Homo sapiens: one gene and its partner. The main gene of each other region encodes a partner of the protein of the gene in region 2 in a complex. Each region holds a gene or a part of one and is shown on either strand. Other genes may lie near its edges.

Region 1 (9,340 bases), on a different chromosome or scaffold from region 2:
ATTTAAATATTACTGGTTTATAGAGGAACTCATCTAATACCAATCAGAAGGTTCATACCACACTAATTGATTTTATGAAGATAGTATACAGTGCTAACCTAGATCAACCTAATGACAAAAATAGATCAGGGAGTCTCCACCTACAAATAGCACAATTGATAAAGACATTTCAATTTTACTGTTTTTAAACAGAATGTAGAAATATCTAGAAATACATATATTGGAGTTCAGACACATTGCACCTTTCACCTAATTTAGGTTACAAGAAAATTAAAGGACTTTGAGGTATTTGTTTATATTACATTCTCTGCTATGGGTATCTTTTAACACCACCATTAGGTGCATAAATTCCCAATGTTTAATTAGCAGTAATCACCTTTCTATTACATGATTTAACAAAAAGCTAAATACTGGAAGATGCATAGTGTAAGACTATGTATAACTTTCGAGAAATTTAAAAATCTAATAACACTTAAAATGTTTGCTAGAATAAGTAAAATGCAGAAAATAAAACCGTATCTATGCTAATACCATTTGTTATTCATTCAAGAAAGGAACAAATAACATTTCTTTTAAAGGTCAAGGTTTATTCCAAATTTTTACTTGTATTTTTATACTAAAGAGTAAAAAATACCTGTAAAAACTCAAAATAATAAACCCCAAAGTAAAATTTTAATTCACCTGCCTTTACAGTTTTCCTGTACTTCAGAACTAGCGTAATCTTTATGTATAGAAGCATATAATTCTAAACTGTAACTCCCAGGAATGACCTGAAATTAAATCCAAGAGTCAAAACCTAAACACACAATAAAGAGAACAGGTCCTGAATGCCACAGAACAGCTATCTTCTACATAATTGATAGATATAAGGAACCTACCAAAATCCATTTTAGCTGACCAAACTGAAACTTTCAGAAAAATCTATTACTCAAGTTTTATTTGTTCATTAGCAACCCCAAGGCCCTTCCCTAATTAGTTTATTACCTAAACATATAATTTTATTAAAATAACATGTTTTAAAAATTTTATTAAAATAGGTTATCACAAGACAATTACAAAACAAATCAAATGACTGTTTATTAACTTCTATTTCTTCACAAAATTCTGAACTTAATAATCCCTTAAAGATCATGTACTGGAACTCTTTTGGCGCTTCATGCAGTTGTTGCTATACATTGAGTAATATTAATATTTTTCTCAAACAAATTTGGACCTTGAAAATTTAATGAAAGTTTAGGTACAGACTTCTTAAGGAAAAAATACTGTACATTTTTCCTATCAGTCTTCCAAAAGTCAAACAGCAACAACTAATGACATCATGGCAGAGTTATCAACAAAATGAAATTGTTAGTGATGTCATACTAGACTGGAATGCTTTATACGACCAAGTAATATAAAAAATTTTAGGCCGGGAGCAGTGGCTCATGCCTGTAATCCCAACACTTTGGGAGGTCAAGGTAAGCGGATCACCTGACGTCAGCAGTTCAAGACCAGCCTGGCCAACATGGTGAAACCCCATCTCTCCTAAAAATACAAAAACTAGCCGGGTGTGGTGGTGCACGCCTGTAATCCCAGCTACTTGGGAGACTGAGCCAGGAGAATTGCTTGAAGTTGGACAGCAAAGGTTGCAGTGAGCCAAGATCATGCTACTGCACTCCAGCCTGGGCAAGAGAGTGAAGCTCCGTCTCAAAAAAAAAAAAAAAAAAAAAAAAAAAAAAAAAAATTTAGTAACTTCATCTACACAAGGATGTTAGCGGTCACCAGCACTTACAACTAAAAAAAAAAAAAAAAAAATTTTTTTTTCTTTTCTTTGAGACAGGGTCTTGCTGTGTTGCCCAGACTGGTCTTGAACTCCTGGGCTCAAGCAATCCCACTGCCTCAGCCTCCCAAAGTGTTGGGATTAGACATGCGCCACCATGCCCAGCCACCAACAATTACAATTTACCAGATTAAAAAATTGCCTTCATCTCAAAGGTAAACACTGAAATATACCAAATTTGGGAGGAAGGGACTTGGAGAGTAGGCAGAAATCTTAGGATAGTAGTGCTCTAGAACTTTTTTGTGTTACACACTCATTGAGAATAAAATTTATTCAAGGAATATTCAATGATTACTATGTGGCAGGTACCGGGCCTACAAAGTAGAACAAAAAGGTCCCTGACCGCACATGATTTTTATTTTAGTAGCATAGAAGTTTTGGTTCCTCTGCCCTAAATCTTAACTGAAACCTGGAGGTCCAAGGAATGGCTTTAAAGAAATCTGTGGTCTAGGAAAAGGCAGGATAAGAAGAGAACCTAAGAACAGATTTTTTTCCCTCTACTCCCATTGGAAACCTAATTTTATGATGAAAGCCAAGAAAAGATAGGATTTAACTTAAAGACAATAAAGAGAACAGGTCCTGAATGTCACAGTTTTGATGAACTACAAGTATTCTTTATAAGAATTCTACCAGGCCAGGCATGGTGATTCACACCTGTAATCCCAGCACTTTAGGAGGCTGAGGCGGGTGGATCACCTGAGGTTGCGAGTTTGAGACCAGCCTGACCAACATGGAGAAACCCCATCTCTACTAAAAATACAAAAATAGCCAGGTGGTGCATGCCTCTAATCCCAGCTACTCGGGAGACTGAAGCAGAACAGCTTGAACCCGGGAGACAGAAGTTGAGCCACTGCACTCCAGCCTGGGCAACAAGAGTGAAACTGTCTCAAAATAAATTAAAAAATAAAAATGCTATCAATCACTGAAGAGGGATCCTCTTATATTCAATAGACACAAACTTTTTTTTTTTTGAGGCAAAGTCTCGCTCTGTTGCCCAGGCTGGAGTGCAGTGGCATGATCTTGCCTCACTGCAACCTCTGCCTCCCAGGTTCAAGTGATTCTCCTGCATCAGCCTCCTGAGTGGCTGGGATTACAGGTGCACGCCACCATGCCTGGCTAATTTTTGTATTTTTAGGAGAGATGGGGTTTCACCACGTTGGCCAGGCTGGTCATGAACTCCTGACCTCAAGTGATCCGCCTCGGCCTCCCAAAGTGCTGGAATTACAGGCGTGAGCCACTGCGCCCGGCCAACAAACTTTCTTTTCAAAGAGTTGTTTAAGAGAGCAGACCATCAACTATGCAATGGCACACTGAGTAACGTTTTCTACCCTAAAGTGAACATGCTGTACTGCATACAGTTGGTACCTGTACCTGACTGGGAATATTAAGAAATGTATTACAGAAGGTCAGAGTTTAAGAGTGAAAGTATTAGACAGCCTGAGACAATTTGGGAAGGAGACAGTATATTTATAAAAAAAACTACTTCAGAAAAACATTTTGACGATACATTTACTTTGTAGAGATGGGGTCTCACTATGTTGCCCAGGCTGGTCTCAAACTCCTGGGCTCAAGTGATCCTGCTGCCTCAGCCTCCCAAAGTGATAAGATTACCAGCCATCAGGCCCAGTCTATTTTTTTTGAGGAGACATGAGATCAAATAGGTGATACCTTTAAAACAGTGTAACTCAACAAAAAAAAAATTATTCCCAAAACTGTTTGCTTTTTGTTCATAACAGTCAATACATGTAATTTACCAACCTCAGAAAGTAAAAACTAAGTTTAAGTCAAATTACACAATAAATAAAAATAAAACCTGCTTAAATTTGTCTTTAATACTAATAGCTTTCTACCTACAGTCCTATCAAATAGTATTTGAGGTGACTAGTGTAATTCTGGTATCCCCCAAACTTCTATATGCTTATGGAAGTGGGGAGCTTGCTTTAAATGGGCTATATAGTTCCAACTGGGCTTCTCAGTTTTCTCCAGCCTAAGAAAAAGTGCTCAAGTGCTTTTGAGCTCTTATCAAACCCTTCCTGCTTACTGTGAAAACTGTGGCAAATAAACTGCTTGGTGCTCATGCTAATAAAAGTGTCTAATGAAAACAAAGGAATAGTTTGCAAAGCATTTCAACACTACAATAAAAAAAAAAAACAACTCCGGCAAGGGGGGAAAAAAAAGTTTCCCCAACATTGACATTAACCAGCCATCTCAATGTACAAGGATAAATCAAAAGTATTAATGTTCTATGGCATGGCATAAAGAGAACATGACATCAGGTTTTATGTAATAATTTTGCATACTTCCATAGCAAACTAAAAGGGACAAGATTTAAGCGGCTTCATTTCAACAGCTGTCACTGTTTTTTAAGAGAAAAATCCACATTGCTACAGTGACATTTATAGAATAGAATGCCAACTTCTTAAATTTTTTCACTTGAGAAATGGTTATTCCCTGACTGATTATATATGCAATTCTTAGGTTAAAATGTTAGCTAATTTTAACTAGGGTAAATTCAATTGTTCCTTTTTTGATTCTCCATTTCAAGTTGCCTTAGTTACTTCTTGGCCTCCTTTTCTAGCGTGTTAGCTAGCCCAGAATTCCTGTTTTATACTAAGGTAGTCTTCAGAAAACAAAACAAAGACCACCACTACACCACAAGGCTCCAAAGTATATCCACGCAGACTAAAATACATGTCTTTAACTACAATTAGCCCTGCACATCTTCCATCGGCAAGTTTACAATCCCACTTGCCAAAGCAGGTTGAATTACTGTATTATATTATACCCATATGTTAGTATCCATGACATATACCAAAGTCAATTATTTCATACAAGTCTCTTATTCTGACGTTGGCTATTCAATTTATAATAAGAATCTAATGGGTACAATCTAGCTGAGTATTTCTCACCTGCAATCTGCTCTTCAGTCAGTTGGTCAGCCTACAAAGAGATCAAAGAGGAAGGTTAGTGACTTGAGAGTATGTAGATTAGCAGTTACAGAAACAAGTTTAAAACCTTTCAAGGGTTACCATGTACTGTTTCATTTAGTTCCAGCAACAAACACATCTGGATAGAAAATGCACACATCTAGTTTCTCTTATCTTCAAAGCTAAGCTGTCTTAACTCCAAGTTTAAGATATACAAATACTTCAGAATATTTTTGAAAATATACTTTAGAATCCAATAGAAACATTGCTTCCTTTTTCAACGTTAGAATAGCTAAACTTAAGCTCACTTCTATTCCAGATATAAATCACCAGAAATTCCCACTGAATCAAAATGCTTCAGGCTCACAAAATGAAAATTACTCCCACAAATGGTTAAACACATTGTTTTGAAATTAAAGTGATTAAAAAAAAAAAAAGGCACAAACTTTTATTCCTTCTCACCCAGCAGGCAAAATGCAAAGAATCCAGAGCTCTGAACTACAGTACTATAATATTTACCAAATGTTTGAAAGTTCAGCCATCCATTTTCTCTTGGTTTTTAAAATCCCAAAGTAAGCCCAAGGCTTGTGATGTTTTTTTAATAGCACTTGGTTTTCTTCAGAAAATATTTTCTGCCATTTGCTAAAACCCATTATAAATTTTATCCTTATTCAATCTTAATAATAACCTTACAGTGGTATTATCCCCTATCTTACAGATAAGGAATGAGGCTAGGGTTAAGTGGGATTGGGGCACAGAAAATTAGTAGAACAAAGATAAAGCACTAAGGTGTCAGACATACCCAGTAACTTTTAGCTTTTAATTCAGAGCACCGTAATATATAAAGATGATTGCAAAATATCCAGACTCCTTGTTGTATTCTTTGAACATGCACTTTCTTTCACTGCTTATTAGTATATACATCCATGAAGCAACTGCTTATGGGGTATTGAGAAGCACAGACAAGAAATAGCCTCCTATCTAAAATCCCTACCAACATGGGAGTCAAGTATACAATGATTAATCCATTCATTTATTTATAGGTAAAAGAAAAATAAACATTGCCTGGCTTCATTCTTTTTAAATGAACACACCCCTGGAAAAAGTAACACCTTAATGTGGAACACATTTTCTCTAGGGCACATGAGAAAATTCAAGAAGGAATCCAGAAAGCAGTTTATTTTCCCTGCTCAACAATTTTTGTTTGACCATGATGTAAATCAAATTCATTAAAAAAAAAAAAAAAAAAAAAAGCTGGTAACGTAAAATTGAAGAGCCAATAATTAAGTTCAAATACAGAGTTTGTAAAATAAAAAATGTATCCACTTTTATCCCTAAAGTCCAAATCCTCCGCCAACAAATATTTGGTGTGAAGTCAGTCACAGATTGTTTACCCAAGGAATAAGGTTTAAAATCCAGTAAATCTGAGTTATTTACTTTGTATTAATAGAAGCTACATTACTTCAGTTTATTGCATTTTGCAGGACTTCCACCATTTCTGAAAGGAAGGGCAACCTGGCATGCGTGGCGTGGGGGGAAAGCATCAAGTTCTGAGTCACAGGCCAGTATCCCAGCCCTGCCATTTAATAGCTGTGTGACCTTGGACGTGGTACTCCTCCTCTCAGTCAACTTCATTTGTAGCACAAGAATAACAATACTTACCTTGCAGGGTTGTTGTGCAAAGTGAGATGCTATGTACAAAGCTAACCTAAAGAGTTAAATGATAACCATTATTTCATATAAATTAACAAAGAACCTACAATGTTAAATATCAACCTGACTAGCTCAATTTCCACACCGAATGTAGACATGCATGGCATTTATTAAGCCCTTTATGGTAAGCTTACTCTATTCAATGTTAACTTTGTTTAAGCTGAGAAAATTTATGCAAACTAAATCCACAAGGTGCAACCCAGCGACAGATGCAGCGGACATCACTTTAAGGCTAAAAAAAAGTTGAGCTAAATGTGTGGCAGACACTGCAGCCTGTGTGAAAGTTGAAGGATCCCGTACTCTGTACAGGAAGGGAGACAGGTTCGTTCTCTCTACATGGGTTGGGGGGGGGGGGGGGGTGGGAAATGGGACTTTGGGAAGGCTACTATATATGAAACATGAGAAGCCTTAGGAAGAAACGAGGATGTTAGCAATTTAGGAACCACTGTCCAATTTTGCTTGGAAAGTCAAAATTTAGGGACCTCATACCATCTTGTCTAACTCCCTACCTCCAAGCAAATGCAATCTTGGAAGAGATCACAAAAATGAGCTTCAAGGAATGAATTAAGCACCCAAGAGACCAAATTACTCACATAACCTGAAAGCTCTCAATTTTGCTTGGAAGGTTGAGAAGCTTTTTGTATTACTTATCCAGAGTTCAGGTTTTAGAATAAACTTTTACCAGCAATATCCAGATTAAAGCCTACTATAAATCAAGAAGACTTCCTAGCACTAACTTTCCCAACTGCTACAAAGGCGAATAAATTTGGTTCTTCCTTGTTTCCAGGGAGTGCCATTTTCTTAGAAGAACCAGAAGAATTATACTTTTGGGAAAACTCAAGCTCATTAACATGTATGTTTATCTCAGTAAAGTGAAGAAGAATTCACTAGAGAGATGACTTGTTCTTACTCCCTTATTTCTGTAGCTATTGACATAATTCTTCCCACTGCTCTTGCCACTCCAGAGAAAGTTCCTAGGCATTAGTATACTCTCAGGTTCCTCCCTAGACCTCCTGTACTAGAATGTTCATTTTGGAGAACCATAGGTGATCTGTCAACACTAAGGAGCACGACCCCGTATTACATTAGTGACCTGAAGTGAATACATTATGTACCTATCAAACATTTCCTACATGCCATTCAAAAGTATGCATGAATACTGTTGGAGTTTATCTAGTGAAAGGTGGTGTTCTTATCTGAATAAATGTGTGAGCCCATAGGCTTGAAATGGAACGCAAACTGCTATCCTTCATCCATTCCTGTCTGTTCATTCCCATCAGGTGCTACTTTGATACAACAAGGATTCCTATATGAAGTTTTTTCTACAATTATGGAAGCCAGGATATTTGTTTTACCTGTATCAAAAGCAATCTAAATTATTTCATTAGGGTAAAAAGACACCTAATTCTGAAGAATAGTACTTACATAGCATCTCTCACCAAAAGATCACTGGAACAAAATGGCTTCATAAAAATTAGGGCTATTACTAAAGGCCTAAATTCTAGCTGAAGCTAGAGCTTTCTATATTTTAAAAGAGCCAAATCCTTTGATCTTCTGAGCCTAACAGAAACAGGCGTTGGCACTTATAAGAACAATTATTTAGACTCAAGTGACAAAAATTTTCTACCTTTTTACATCTTTTACTTACCTAATCACCCTGCACTCAAAGTCCTCTTGAAGCAATCCCGTTTTCAATGAGCATATGTTGATTACATGTAAACTCAAGAGTTACATGAGCAATCTTACTTTACTTCCGTATAAAATTTTTTATACTTTAACTTGGGGTCCTAATTTTTTTTATTTTTTGAGAGACAGGGTCTCACTCTGTTGCCCAGGGAGTGCAGTGGTGTGATCATAGCTCACTACAGTCTCCAACTCCCGGGCCCAAGATGATCCTCCTGCCTCAGCCCATTGACTAGCCAGGACTACACGCACAGGCCATTATGTCCGGCTAATTTTTTTTAATTGGATTCCTAATGTAAAATCTCAGTCCTCTAATTATAAAGTTATGTGAAGGCAATTTTCAAATTTACTGTATCTGTCACAAATAATGATATCTGTCAATTTTTATTAAGATTTTTTTTTTCGACTTTGTCTCTTATAGTAAGAGCTGTCAATTTAACAGAAAACCCCCAAAGCACCAGTGATGCAAACAGTAACTACAAAAGCTTAACACTGGGCAAGGGACCACAAATGCGTAGATACCAACTCTACCAAGAAAAAATCTATTCGAATTACTGATTCAATTATCAAAACTGATTAAAGAAAACTTTACCCTTCGTTTATTTAAAAAAAAAAGCTTACTCCACAACTTGTAATGTTTATTACATATGCCTGTAACTACATCTTTAAGAAAGCAAATGTAACCAGCACATTCAAATTCAGAATAACATTTGAAGCATCAAGATGAAGCAAATCCATCAAACGTCAATGAACGCTAGTTTTATTTAAGGTGAAATCGTCTCCCCACACCCATACAGGCTGGAGGTTTCAGTTGGCAAGGATCCCTAACTCCTGTTTAAGATGTCACCTTGCCTCCTGGACACACCCATCGCTGTAACCACTTGGCAGGAGGAACCACAAAGTAAGTATCACAGATCACCGCCCTCATTAGGTGTTTTTTTTTTTTTTTTTCAGGAAAGAACATGATCTCCCAGTCTGAGGTGACCGGAAAATGCTTTTAAAAATTCCCTGCTCCTCCCCCGCATACACTCTTCCATCACAGTATTTGACAGACAAACATCATACAAACGAAGTGTACGTCAAGACGACCTGGCAACTTCTACACGGAATTTAGGGGTCGTTTTCAAAGCAGCAGAAGGGGAGCAATGTTTTTATGTGGTCGTGGTTCTTGAACATTAGGACTGCACGCTGTTTTCAA
Region 2 (11,855 bases):
TGGTATCCATGAGCATACACCATTCTTGTGATAATCTTTGAAAACTCTTCATTTTGAGATAATTATGGATTCACATACAGGTATGAGCCATAATGTAGAGATTTCTTTATTCCGTTTCTCCCAATTGTAATATCTCACAAAATTGTAGTACAATATCACAAAGAGGATACTGACATTGATAGAGTCAAGATACAGAACTTTCCACCACAAGACTCTCTCAAGTTGCCGGTTCACAGCCACACCTACATCCCTCCCTGCCCCCTTCCATGGCAGGTGGGCAGTGGGCAAAGTCCTGACTCTCCACTGGGCCTCCTCTGACCATCCCAGTCGGGAGGAGGAGGGAGTACCTCGTTACTGCCGGGTATGACAATTAAAAAGCAAGCAAGGCCGGGGGTGGTGGCTCATGCCTGTAATCCTAATACACTGGGAGGCTGAGGCAGGAGGACTGCTTGAGTTAAGGAGTTTGAGACCAGCCTGCGCAACATAGTGAAACCTCATCTCTACAAAAATTTAAAAAATTAGCCAGGCATGATAGCATGCACCTGTGATCCCAGCTACTCTAGCAGCTGAGGTGGGAGGATGGCTTGAGCCTAGAAGGTCGAAGCTAAAGTGAACTTTAATCACACCATTGCACTCCAGCCTGGGCAACAGAGAACCCATCCCTTATAACATAATAAAATATAAAATAGAATAGAATAGAGCAAACAAAAAATCCCTCTCCATCCCCTGACCTTTAATCCTGTGCCATCAGTGAGCTCTGGCCCGGGATGTGGCTCCCCAGGGCAGCTTCTCCAAAAGGTGATATCAAGGGTGTTACTGGCCTCTTATCCCCCAGCAAATTAATACCTTAGTAAAACAAACATTTTACACGGCACAACCTCATCCCAGAACACACCTGTGAGGCAAGTGGCTCAACAGGTACAGCCCACTGATCAGATGAGAATCCGCCCTCTGAAGCACGGTTCCCAGCTTTGGGCGTCCAGTAACACAAAAGAGTCTTGTGGGGGTGGGGGTGGGGGTGGTCCTCACTTGGTGGGAGAGGTGCACTGTCAGCATCTCCCTAGGTTGTGTCCCAGCTAACTGTAATTCCCTATCAGAGCAGCGTTTTCTAGGTTAAAATAAGGGCTTATGGAGACCAAGCTTTCATCATTCAGGTAAAGCCTCCACGTAGCAGGCTTCAAAGACAACAGAGTGTAAATGTTTCTTATCAGACTTAAAGAGTCTGTTGCTGGCTCACACCAACTCCGCCAGCTGCCTCTCACCTGCCTGAGCAAGTACCCGGTCCCCAGGCCTGGCCCTGCAGCCTCCTTGCCCATTCTCCCTGCCAATCCCTAGGAATCCCACCTGCTGCTTGTTCCTCTTTCTCTGAAACCCAAATGGGAGTTGGAGTTTCCCTAGGATGCCTGAGCAACCGGCGCCTCTGGGGCTCCATGAGTGCGGTCCGGTCCATGGACCGCCCACAATTGCATCATCTCAAGAGTTGAAAGTGCACATTCTCTGCAGCCCCAGATCTTCAGGACCAGAAGCTCTGAGGTTTGGGCCCTGGGAGTGTGAATTCTAGCAAGCATTCTCAGAGCCGCTGGTATTACTGAGTGAAAAGAAACCCTCAGACAGCACTTCCATGGTTTTCTAAAGTGCCTCGTGCCTGCTGGGTGATCCTGTGCCAGTTATTTGACCTCTGTTTCTCTGTTTGACCTCTTTATAGGCATGTGTCTTATGCTATATATGTGTGGCATGTATTTGAGTGTGTGTGTGTGTGTGTGTGTGTGTGTATAAAATATATCAACAAAGAGTCAAACTATAAAATACTTGAAGATACTTACTCTGAGCCAAATACGAGTGACCAATGGCCTGTGACACAGCCCTCAAGCTATCCTGAGAACATATACCCAAGGCTGTTGGGTCACAACTTGGTTTTGTACATTTTAGCAAGACATAAAACATCAATCAATACATGTAAGTTGTACATTGGTTCTGTCCGGAAAGGTGGGACAGCTGGAAGCAGGGGCTTCCGGGTCGTAGGTAGATTCAAAGATTTTTCTGATTGGCAATTGGTTAAAAGAATTAAGTTTTTGTCTAAAGACTTAGGAACGTCTGGCCGGCCGCAGTGGCTCATGCCTGTAATCCCAGTACTTTGGGGGGCCGAGGCAGATGGATCACTTGAGGTCAGGAGTTCGAGACCAGCCTGTTCAACATGGCAAAACCCCATTTCTACTAAAAATACAAAAATTAGCCTGGTGTGGTGGCATGCACCTGTAATCCCAACTACTTGGGAGGCTGAGGCATGAGAACTGCTTGAGCCCAGGAGGTGGAGGTTGTAGTGAGCCAAGATCACGCCACTGCACTCCAGCCTGGGTGACAGAGTGAGGCTCTGTCTCAGAAAATAAATAAATAAATAAATAAATAAATACTTAGAAATTTCTATGTTAAAATAAGGGGTTATGGAGACCAAGGTTTCGTCATTCAGGTAAAGCCTCCAGGTAGCAGGCTTCAAAGACAATAGAGTATAAATGTTTCTCATCAGACTTAAAGGGTCTGTTCTATCAGTAATCCCACAAGGGAGGAGAGTATAATGAGGCATGTCTGGTCCCTCCTTCCCATGATGGCCTGAACTAGTTTTTCAGGCTAACTTTGGAATGCCCTTTGCTGAGAGGAGGGGTCCATTCAGATGGCTGAGGGGATTAGATTTTTATTTTTGGTTTACAAATATATGTTTTAGTGTGTGTATGTATGTATGTATATATATATATGCATATGTCATATATGCTTTAGTGTGTGTGTGTATGTGTGTGTGTGCATGCATGCTTCAGTTTCCTCATTTATTAAAAGCGTTAGTGATAGCTCACCTTGCAGAGTTGTGACAGGGCATAGGATGTCTGTCTAGCACATGATGATTAGGTATGTACACCTTTCTCTTCTCTTTTTCATGCCTATTAACTCACGTCACTTTCCAAGTCAGCAAGTCCTAGATGGATTCCCATTTCCCACAGGGAGCACAGACAGATGTCCTCTCAGGGCCCCTGCATTGACTTGGGGCAGAGCCAGGCCTAAGTCCCAGGCTTCAGACTCCTCAGGTTCTTCTTGCGGACCACCTGTCTAGGTTCTCACTCTCTCCTCGCCTATAAATGTGTGGTCCTAGTAAGTCACTGGAGCTGCAGGCAGCAAGGAGGGTGCTCCAGGCAGCCCCTGCCAGAGGCCAGTCCAAAGCTCCCAGGGCCCAACTCACTGTGGAGGAGGGGGGTGAGATGAGGCATGGAGAGAACCTGTAGCTGGGAGTGTCAAGGGCCAGGGCAATGCCCCCACCCAGCCTCCCACTGAGATAGGCCAGCTCCTGCACGCTCCCAAGGCAGGGGCTCCAGGCCCTCCAGTGTGCCAGCCACTTTATTTAGTATATTGGCCCCTTCTGTCTTTGGTGCAGCCCAGTGAGGTAGGTATTATTACTATCCCTGTGTACCAGAAGCAGCCCACAGCTGGAAAAGAGGAAGAGAGCTTCGCATCAGACCTTCTCATCCCTCGTGGCTTCAACATCAGCCAAGGAGCCTCTTTTAAGAGCTTCCTAGGTTTTTTCACACCAGCCCCAGAGAACCACTGTCCTGGGCCCAGCCCCACACACTTCTCCCCACCCCCGACCCAACAATGACTCTGCTTCGACCTTCACTGATGGGCGTTCACTGCCTGTGCAGACTCCAAGCTTCGAGTGCCTGCTTCTCATGTCCCTGAGCTGAAGCCGCCTTCCCATCACTGCCCCCCCAAAGACATTCACACCTCCCACTGACTTATAGCCACCCTTTGGTGGTTTCAAGGCAGCCCTCCACGGCCCAAAAGAGCACTCACCTAATGACTAGTGGTTCCCAAACTGCAATATGTTCTTGCCAGAAACATGAGAGTTTGTAAAAATGTGCATTCTGACTCGCCAACCTTGGTGGGGAGGAGGCAGGAATCTGCACATTTCACCTGCACCCCGGATCTTGTGACCCACGCATGGGTGACCCACCCATGCACCTGGAGAAATGCTGCCCTAGGGGTTAAACAGCCTCCACTTTCTTCATCTCTCGGGACCCTCGGGAAGGCATTCCACAAAGCAGAGAGAATTCTGGAAAAAGGGCTGCATGCAAGTGCTAACGCAGGGAAGGCAGGGAGGAGGTATCTGCTGTTCACCTCCCACTTTTCAGAAACAAGATCAGTGTGGTGGGCCTGTGCAAGGGGAGAGGTAACTCTGGGAAGGGGCTGAGAAGAGACTGGGACAGCCAGAGTGATCTAGGTGGTGAGGGAATAGGGTGGGAAGGAAGGTAACACTGTAGGTAGCAGGAAGGAGCGGGAATCTTCAGATTTCAGAGCTCAAGGGGAACAATGTGCTCACCAGAGGCCAGAATTTACCCCAGGAGACCAGGATTTTAGGTCCAGCCTTGCTTTGCACCAGCTGAATGACCAGCCCACAAGCATCTCTCCAACAAAGGGCTATGAGGACCAAATGAGATGCTGTTTGGAAAAGTACAACTGGAAAGCATTGTACAAATGCTGGGTATTGCTATTACACTGACTTGGCCAGTTCTTTATTTTACAGATGAGAAAACAGACCCAGAGAGGGCTGGTGACTTATCCAAGATTGCCCAGCTTGCTAGTAGCAAGGCAAGAATAGAGCTCAGATCTTCTGATTTCTGCCCAAGGCAGACACAGTTACCTTTTGTAGATCCCACAAAGGCAAATAATCCCACCTTTCCCTTGTCCCTGGCATGGAAAGCTGGACAAATGAGCCACTCACCCTCTACAGCCTTCAGGGCCCGTCTGGGCTGGGTCTCCAGATGTGTTCATCTTCTCCTGTCTTCTAGATCACAGGTCCCAGAAAGACTGCTGTCCATTGAGCTGCCTGCACTGTGTAGCCACCCCCCTGACTCCTCCTCTTCCTGACTCCTAAAGACCTGCTCACACCCACAGTCCCTCATAAAACTGGTGGCTGAGTTGGTCTAGAAAAATCCCAACCAGGAAGCATGGAATGCAATGGGGCAAGAGTTTTATTAGGAAGGATGAGCTGTCTTCCATCTGGCCCAGTATCTTCTCTTTCCTTTCCTCAAAAATACTATGGTGAAGCTAGGTTATCTAGGAACATACTGTGAAAAAAATCACCAACAACTCCAGGCAGGCCCTGCTTATAAGTCAAGCAAGACTTCGCCAATAACAATAATATCAATTATCAACAAAAATGTTTAAGCACTTACTCTGAGCCATGCACTGTGCTAAGAACTTTGCACGTATTGCTCAGTTTAATTCGTAACACAGCCCTATCTGGTGGGTGTTGGCATCATTCTATTGATTAGGGAAGTGAAACAGAGAGGTGAAGTAATGTGTCCAGTGGGCTCAGCACAAATTTTACAACTACATTGGGCTGACTGTGGAGATTGTATAGTTAACCACCCATGGAGCTATACTCAGTCTCAACATATTGTGTACAACTATATTGAAACAGTCACCTGCAGAGGTTCCTAGCCCATAGAGCCTAGGGAAAAAAGTGGGACCTGCAAGCTATTTTGTTTTAAACTTAAGGGAAATTGTATAATTACTTAGGTAATACTGCTCTGCGATTAAAATTCAAAGTGTTTATACTTTTTGTTTTGCCTGGAAAGAGATCAGCTTTGGCTGATAACCCTGGCCATCTGGTGCAGATTGGGATGTCCTAGTGGTGATTTTAGATGTCTCTGGTTAATTTCCAAAATCAGGGAAATGATTAGTTATCATTATGGTTTTGTTTTAAAGCAGAGTGCTACAAGAAATTTCTCCCAGTATGTGGCTCATGGTGGGGGTACCCTAAAGGGATCCTTTGGTGCTGGCCATGTCAAGTCTTCTGAACCAGCAGGGGCTCACTGGAAGCCTCTTTGCTGTCACTCACATATTTTTCTACCCACAGATTCAGCCAGTTCTCATTTGTTTGGGGCCAGTCCCAAGACAAGTTCTACAGAATTTCAGTGATCTTTTGGTAATCTCTGGAAATGGGGTGCTCCCATGCCTGGAGAGCAGCAATTTTGGAGGCTACTTTGACTGTTTCAATAGTTTTCCTGGCAAAGTAAAGAGAGAAATACAAACACATTTCATTAAATCAGTTCAGGAATAATATGTAGGAAACAGAAAATTCTTTTGAGGAAATAAGCCAAGCAGTAAATATGAATTATACTTTCAAGTTATGGCCAGTTAAGGGAAAAAAGCAAGAATGAGAAGATGTGAGACAGAGCTGCCGGTACCCACTGTAATTGTAACTATCTGTGTGTGTCTCTTTCTGTCCCTCTGGACTGTGAGCCCCTAAAGGCAAGATCTGTGCCTCATTAGTTTTGAATCCCAGGAAACTAGCACAGTGCTCACTATATCATGGGCATTCCATGTATGTTTGTGGAATGAATAAACCTGCCTCAATTCAACAAATACTTAGGAAACACTATATCCAGGCCCTGATTGTATACACAGAGACAAGTAAGATAATCCAGCATGGTAAATGAAGATACAGAAGTGTGTTGTGAGACAGCATTGGGAAGGGAGAACCGAGGAGACTTCCCAGTGAAAGTGACTGATCTGTAGTGGGTTTTAGAACATGAGTAGGAGTTTGCCAGGTGGAAACGGAAAAGGACATTCTGGGCAGCTAGAAGATCGTGTAGAAAGGCATGAAATGAGAATGCATTCTGTGTCCTGGGAACTATAAGCAGTTCAGGTAATGACCTGGAGACGCACACATTTGAAAGCAGAACTGGAGCAGGGAGCAGGAGTCAGGTCATGACAAATTTGGCAGGAAGAGAGCTAAAGGCCTAGGATTACCTAGGAGCTAGGAAGCCAGTAAGCAATGCTAAGCAATGGAGCAACACATCAATACTTGCCAAAGTTCTGACAACAATCTAGTTCATATCCTAGTATCTGGACAAAATGCAAGTTTTTAAAGGGAAGTAATAAACATGAAAAAAAATTTTTTTTTTTTTTGAGACGAAGTCTCACTCTGTTGCCCAGGCTGGAGTGCAGTGGCATGATCTTGGCTTACTGCAACCTCCGTGTCCTGGACTCAAGTGATTTTCCTGCCTCAGCCTCCCTAGTAGCTGGGATTACAGGCATGCACCACCAGGCCCAGCCAATTTTTGTATTTTTAGTACAGGTGGGGTTTCACCATGTTGGGCAGACTGGTCTCGAACTCCTGACCTCAAGTGATACACCTGCTTCAGCCTCCCAAAGTGCTGGGACTACAGGTGTAAGCCACCGCACCTCGCCAGAAAATGTATTTTTAAAAGCGTCTTTTTTCTAACAAAACTTTTGGAAGGAGAGATTTTTTTCTCTCAATGACACTTTTTTATAATTACACAAATTATAAACATTAATTATTAGGCCAAGGTTTGTGGATCACTTGAGCTCAGGAATTCGAGACCAGCCTGGGCAACATGGCGAAAACCCATCTCCACCAAAAATACAAAAACATTAGCTGGGTGTGGTGGTGTGCACCTATAGTCCCAGCTACTCAGGAGGCTGAGATGGGAGGATCGCTTGAGCCCAGGAGGCAGAGGCTGCAGTGAGCCAAGATCACACCACTGCACTCCAGCCTGGGTGACAGAGTGAGACCCCATCTTGATTTTAAAAAATAATAATTATTATTATTTAAAAATTAGAAAAAAAGCCTAAAAGCACAAAAAAAGAGTAAAAATCGGTGTAATCCACTTGCCCAGATTAAAATCACTGCTAAAATGGAATGTTTGTTTATTTCCAGTTGCATGCAGAAGGTAGCCCAGCGTGGGATTCAGAGTGGGGTTGTGTCTGACAAGCTCACTTGCCTGAGCTAGTTTGCCTTGTTGAGGCCGATTTGCCACTAAGGAGGAAGTTGGATTGGGGGGCTTCAGATAGTTCCTGGGGAACAAGGGAGAGTGTGAGTCTCTTCTCCAGCTTTGCCCTGGAACTCTGATCTGAGACCCTGAAGAAAGAAGGTGGGGGGCTCTCCCTAATTTTGCAGGGAATTTGGTGTGGTTCTGGTATTATTTGGTTATTCAGGGGTCGTGAATTTTGGAGGCCCAGGGGAGAGCCCCTGCACTGGGAGGTGCTTTCCAAAGAGACACAAACTATGGGACAATGGAAGAAGAGATCCCCTCCAAAGGCTGTCAGAGTGACTGGATGTGAGTGGCCGGCTTGTGAGTGCCTGTGAGGTGCCTACCCAGGAAATAGCTGGGGAGAACTGACAGTTGGCTGAGGGAGCCTGAGACCCTGCAGTCAGCCAAAGGGGTACATCCATGCTAATGTCCCTTCCTTCACACCCACAAGCTGGAGCCAGAAAAGTAAGAAGTGGTCACTCGGGACTTCTGGTTGAGATGCATCAAGTTTACTCTGAGTTCACCCTTTGAGACCTCCCCATCTGTGCCATACACAAAGCGATGAGAGATAAAGTCTTTTTTTTTTTTTCAGATGGAGTTTGGCTCTTGTTGCCCAGGCTGGAGTGCAGTGGTGTGATCTCGACTCACTGCAACCTCCACTTCTGGGGTTCAAACGACCCTCCTGCCTCAGTCTCCCGAGTAGCTGGGATTACAGGTGCCTGCCACCACTCTCAGCTAATTCTTTGAATTTTTAGTAGAGATGGGGTTTCATCATATTGGCCAGGCTGGTCTCTAACTCCTGACCTCAGGTGATCCACCTGCCTTGGCCTCCCAAAGTGCTGGGATTACAGGTGTGAGCCACCGCGCCCGGTTTAAAAGACTGCCTGCTCTTGAAAAACAGATAAACATCTCTATTGACCAGAGATAAGGCAGAAATATGCAATGGCAAGTGAAACTGAAGCTACAGTTCTGCGCAGCTCCAAGTCCAGAGGCAAGTAGAGGCTGCTGCAGGTGAAGGGATGTGAACCCCTCATCTGAGGGTGCAGCTTGTGGCTGCAGTGAGTGCCAAGAATGAAGTACTCAGACAATTCCAGCTGAGCAGGGCGGGGAGCAGCTCCTCTGAGAGAGTGCCGCTCCAAGGTCTGTCCACCGAATATTTATTGAGAGAGCTTGTTTAAACTACAATTCAAACAAAAGGCATCCACCAGGCGGCTCTTTGCAGTTGGGCCATGAGGCACATATGGCCTTGGAAATACACATAGACCATAGTCTCAGGAGGCTGTTTTCAGCGCTCCTTACTACACATTCCTTTCCTTGCCCTGTTTTCAGGGTCAAGGAGTTTCAGTCGCATGCACAAACAACATGCACACAGTGCCTCGGTACTTTTCCATTCCTCGACCTCAAATGCCTTGTACATAAGCTTGAATATATTGCCATGCACCCTCCACAGAGGGGACCCTGCCTATGGCAGAGCACTGAAAAGAGCTAGGACTGGCCATTGTTGGGACAATGATTTATATCTTGTATCTAGGAGAGAAGAAGAAATTCACAAAGCCTGATAGTGAAGAAGTAGACTAGGCCAACTGCTCCTTGGTGATTGGACCCACAATAGCCTCAGGATTTCCATGGACAGGAGCCTTGAGACACCAATACAAAGCCAGAATTGAACTAGGGAGCCCAGGAAGTGGGGTGAAAGCTACCGCAAAACTTTTAGATGAGGACTGAACACTAACATGCACATGCCTCCACACACACATGCACGCATGCATACCCACACATGCACTCACACAATTACCATTCAAGGTGAACCAGTAAGCTGGCATTCCAAAAGATCTGAAAAAGAATATCAAGAATGCTAAGAAAGACAGCCAATCAAACCAAAAATAGGGAGAAGAACTCATACTTTAAGAAGTGAAAATCATAGACTTTAAGCATGTTTAGAATCCTCAAAAAAGAAAGGAAAGAAAAACATGCATTAAAAAAATAATAAGAACTTATAAGATGGGCAGCACTGAAGTGAAACAGCCAGTCACGAAAAGATATTGTATGATTCCAATTACATGAGGTACCTGGAGGAGTCAAATTCATAGACACAGAAAGTAGAATGGTGCTTACCAGAGGCCGAGGGAAGAGGGGAATGGGGAGTTACGGCTTAATCATACAGTTTCAGTTTTGCAAGACGAAAAAAGTTCTGAAGATAGATGGTAGTGATGGTTGCACAATGTATTAATACAACAAAACCAGGAAGTATTAACTTTCTGAAGCCTTTTGACATAGCCAAATAGCTTTCCAAGAATTCTGAAACAGCTGAAGGTGAAAAAAAAAAGAAACTATTCTGGCCGGGTGCAGTAGCTCATGCCTGTAATCCCAGCACTTTGGGAGGCTGAGGCAGGTGGATCACCTGAGGTCAGGAGTTTGAGACCAGCCTGGCCAACATGGTGAAACCCCATCTCTACTAAAAATACAAAAATTAGCCAGGCATGGTGGCATATGCCTGTAATCCCAGCTACTCGGGAGGCTGAGGCAGGAGAACTGCTTGAACCTGGGAAGCGGAAGTTGCAGTGAACCAAGATTGTGTCACTGCACTCCAGCCTGGGAGACAGAGCAAGACTCTGGCTCAGAAAAAAGCTATTCTGAATAAAGTGTTTATAAACGATATGTGCACAGGTGTAAAGTAGGCTCACTTCTTTTCCCGATCTATCCATGCTGAGTCCAGGGATAGAGAATGATTTCTATGCCCTATTTCTTAATGGACTCCACCCTAAACTCAGTAATTTTAGCTAACAACAGCTAAGTTTAAAAGATCACCTATTGAACTAAAATACATATTTCTGGCATTTAACTGGCTATCTGTAAACACTTTTATAGGAGAAATTTAAATCTATGAAGGAAATTTCCATTTGTAAAGGTGTCTGAGAGGGAGGCCTGGGTCACTAGAAACTGTTACCATTGTTTGAAATTTACATGACAGGTCTTTGTTACGGCGCCTATCCTGGCCATCTTGTCTTAACTGGGCCTTTACATGCAACCTTTTTTCCTTGGTTTAAGCAAATGATGGTACAATATTTAGGCCCAAACAGAGCTAAGAACAGGTCTTAGCTCTATTCTTTTGAGATATACATTTTCTACCTTGTTTAACCTGTTGAGTCATCTTTTTAAAAGGCAAATTGTTGCATAGCTAACAATTGCTTAGGGCAATAAAACAAGTAATTAAAAGATTAACAGTCTAAATGGGGACAAAAACTAAAAGCTGGCAAGTAAGAATTACTTATAAAAACTATAAGATCTGCTTCTGTTTGTGTTTGTATGACTATATGTCACTATGTGGCATGTGTATATGATAATATTTGATAAATAAAGCTAGATTTTAAATGTTAGTAAAATAGAAATGGCTCCAAAATTATCAGTTAAATATAATTCAGACATTTTTGCCTGGGTTTACTGGTCAGACAGGCTTATGCTGCCTTTGTTACATGTTTTAAGGTCATAATACTACTGCTTCTGTAATATTTTTGATATTTGTTTGATTTGACTTTGAGCTTATATTTTGAGTTTTAAACACCTGGATTCTGAATAGGTCATCATGGTGAGGCCTGTTTATATATAAAGTTTTGGAGCCACAAAAGGAATAGCACTCAAATATAAAATTTTCTTTTTAATTCTCAGCAAGGCAAGGTACTTCTATATAGAAAGGTGCGCCCTTACAGATGGAAAAATGGTGAGTGCACACTCAGACAAGGGAGGGGAAGGGGTTCTTATCCCTGATGCACATGACCCCTGCTGCTGTGTTGTTCCCCTATTGGCTAGGGTTAGACTGCACAGGCTAAACTAATTCCGATTGGCTAATTTAAAGAGAATGATGGGGTGAGTGCTTTGGCAGGAGTCAGGGCAGAGCAGGTAGCAGATAATCAGAATGAGTTAGGGTGGAGCAGGTGATTGGAATGAGTCAGGGTGGAGTAGGTGATTGAAAAAGATTGCTTTATGAGGAAGTTAAGTTTAAAAGTAGAAGGCAAAGAATTTAACATATTGACA

What was found.
Region 1: the proteins of NOX5 (region 2) and CALM2 are in contact, whole or in part, in a crystal structure (PDB 6SZ5), measured with the Homo sapiens proteins. Residues at the interface, in NP_078781.3 of Homo sapiens: Trp720, Ser721, Val723, Phe724, Val727; in NP_001734.1 of Homo sapiens: Glu12, Phe13, Ala16, Phe20, Leu33, Met52, Glu55, Val56, Phe69, Met72, Met73, Lys76, Met77, Thr80.

What each region holds. Positions count from the first base shown.
Region 1 is NC_000002.12:47,166,006-47,175,345, forward strand, and holds part of CALM2 (calmodulin-2), read right to left. Parts: intron 8,203-9,340; exon of another isoform or gene 6,455-8,202; coding exon of another isoform or gene 6,409-6,454; exon of another isoform or gene 4,760-6,408; coding exon 4,729-4,759; intron 1-4,728. UniProt on the Homo sapiens protein: Calmodulin acts as part of a calcium signal transduction pathway by mediating the control of a large number of enzymes, ion channels, aquaporins and other proteins through calcium-binding. Calcium-binding is required for the activation of calmodulin.
Region 2 is NC_000015.10:69,007,693-69,019,547, reverse strand, and holds the start of NOX5 (NADPH oxidase 5), read right to left. Parts: upstream 4,854-11,855; 5' UTR 4,813-4,853; coding exon 4,763-4,812; intron 1-4,762. UniProt on the Homo sapiens protein: Calcium-dependent NADPH oxidase that catalyzes the generation of superoxide from molecular oxygen utilizing NADPH as an electron donor. May play a role in cell growth and apoptosis.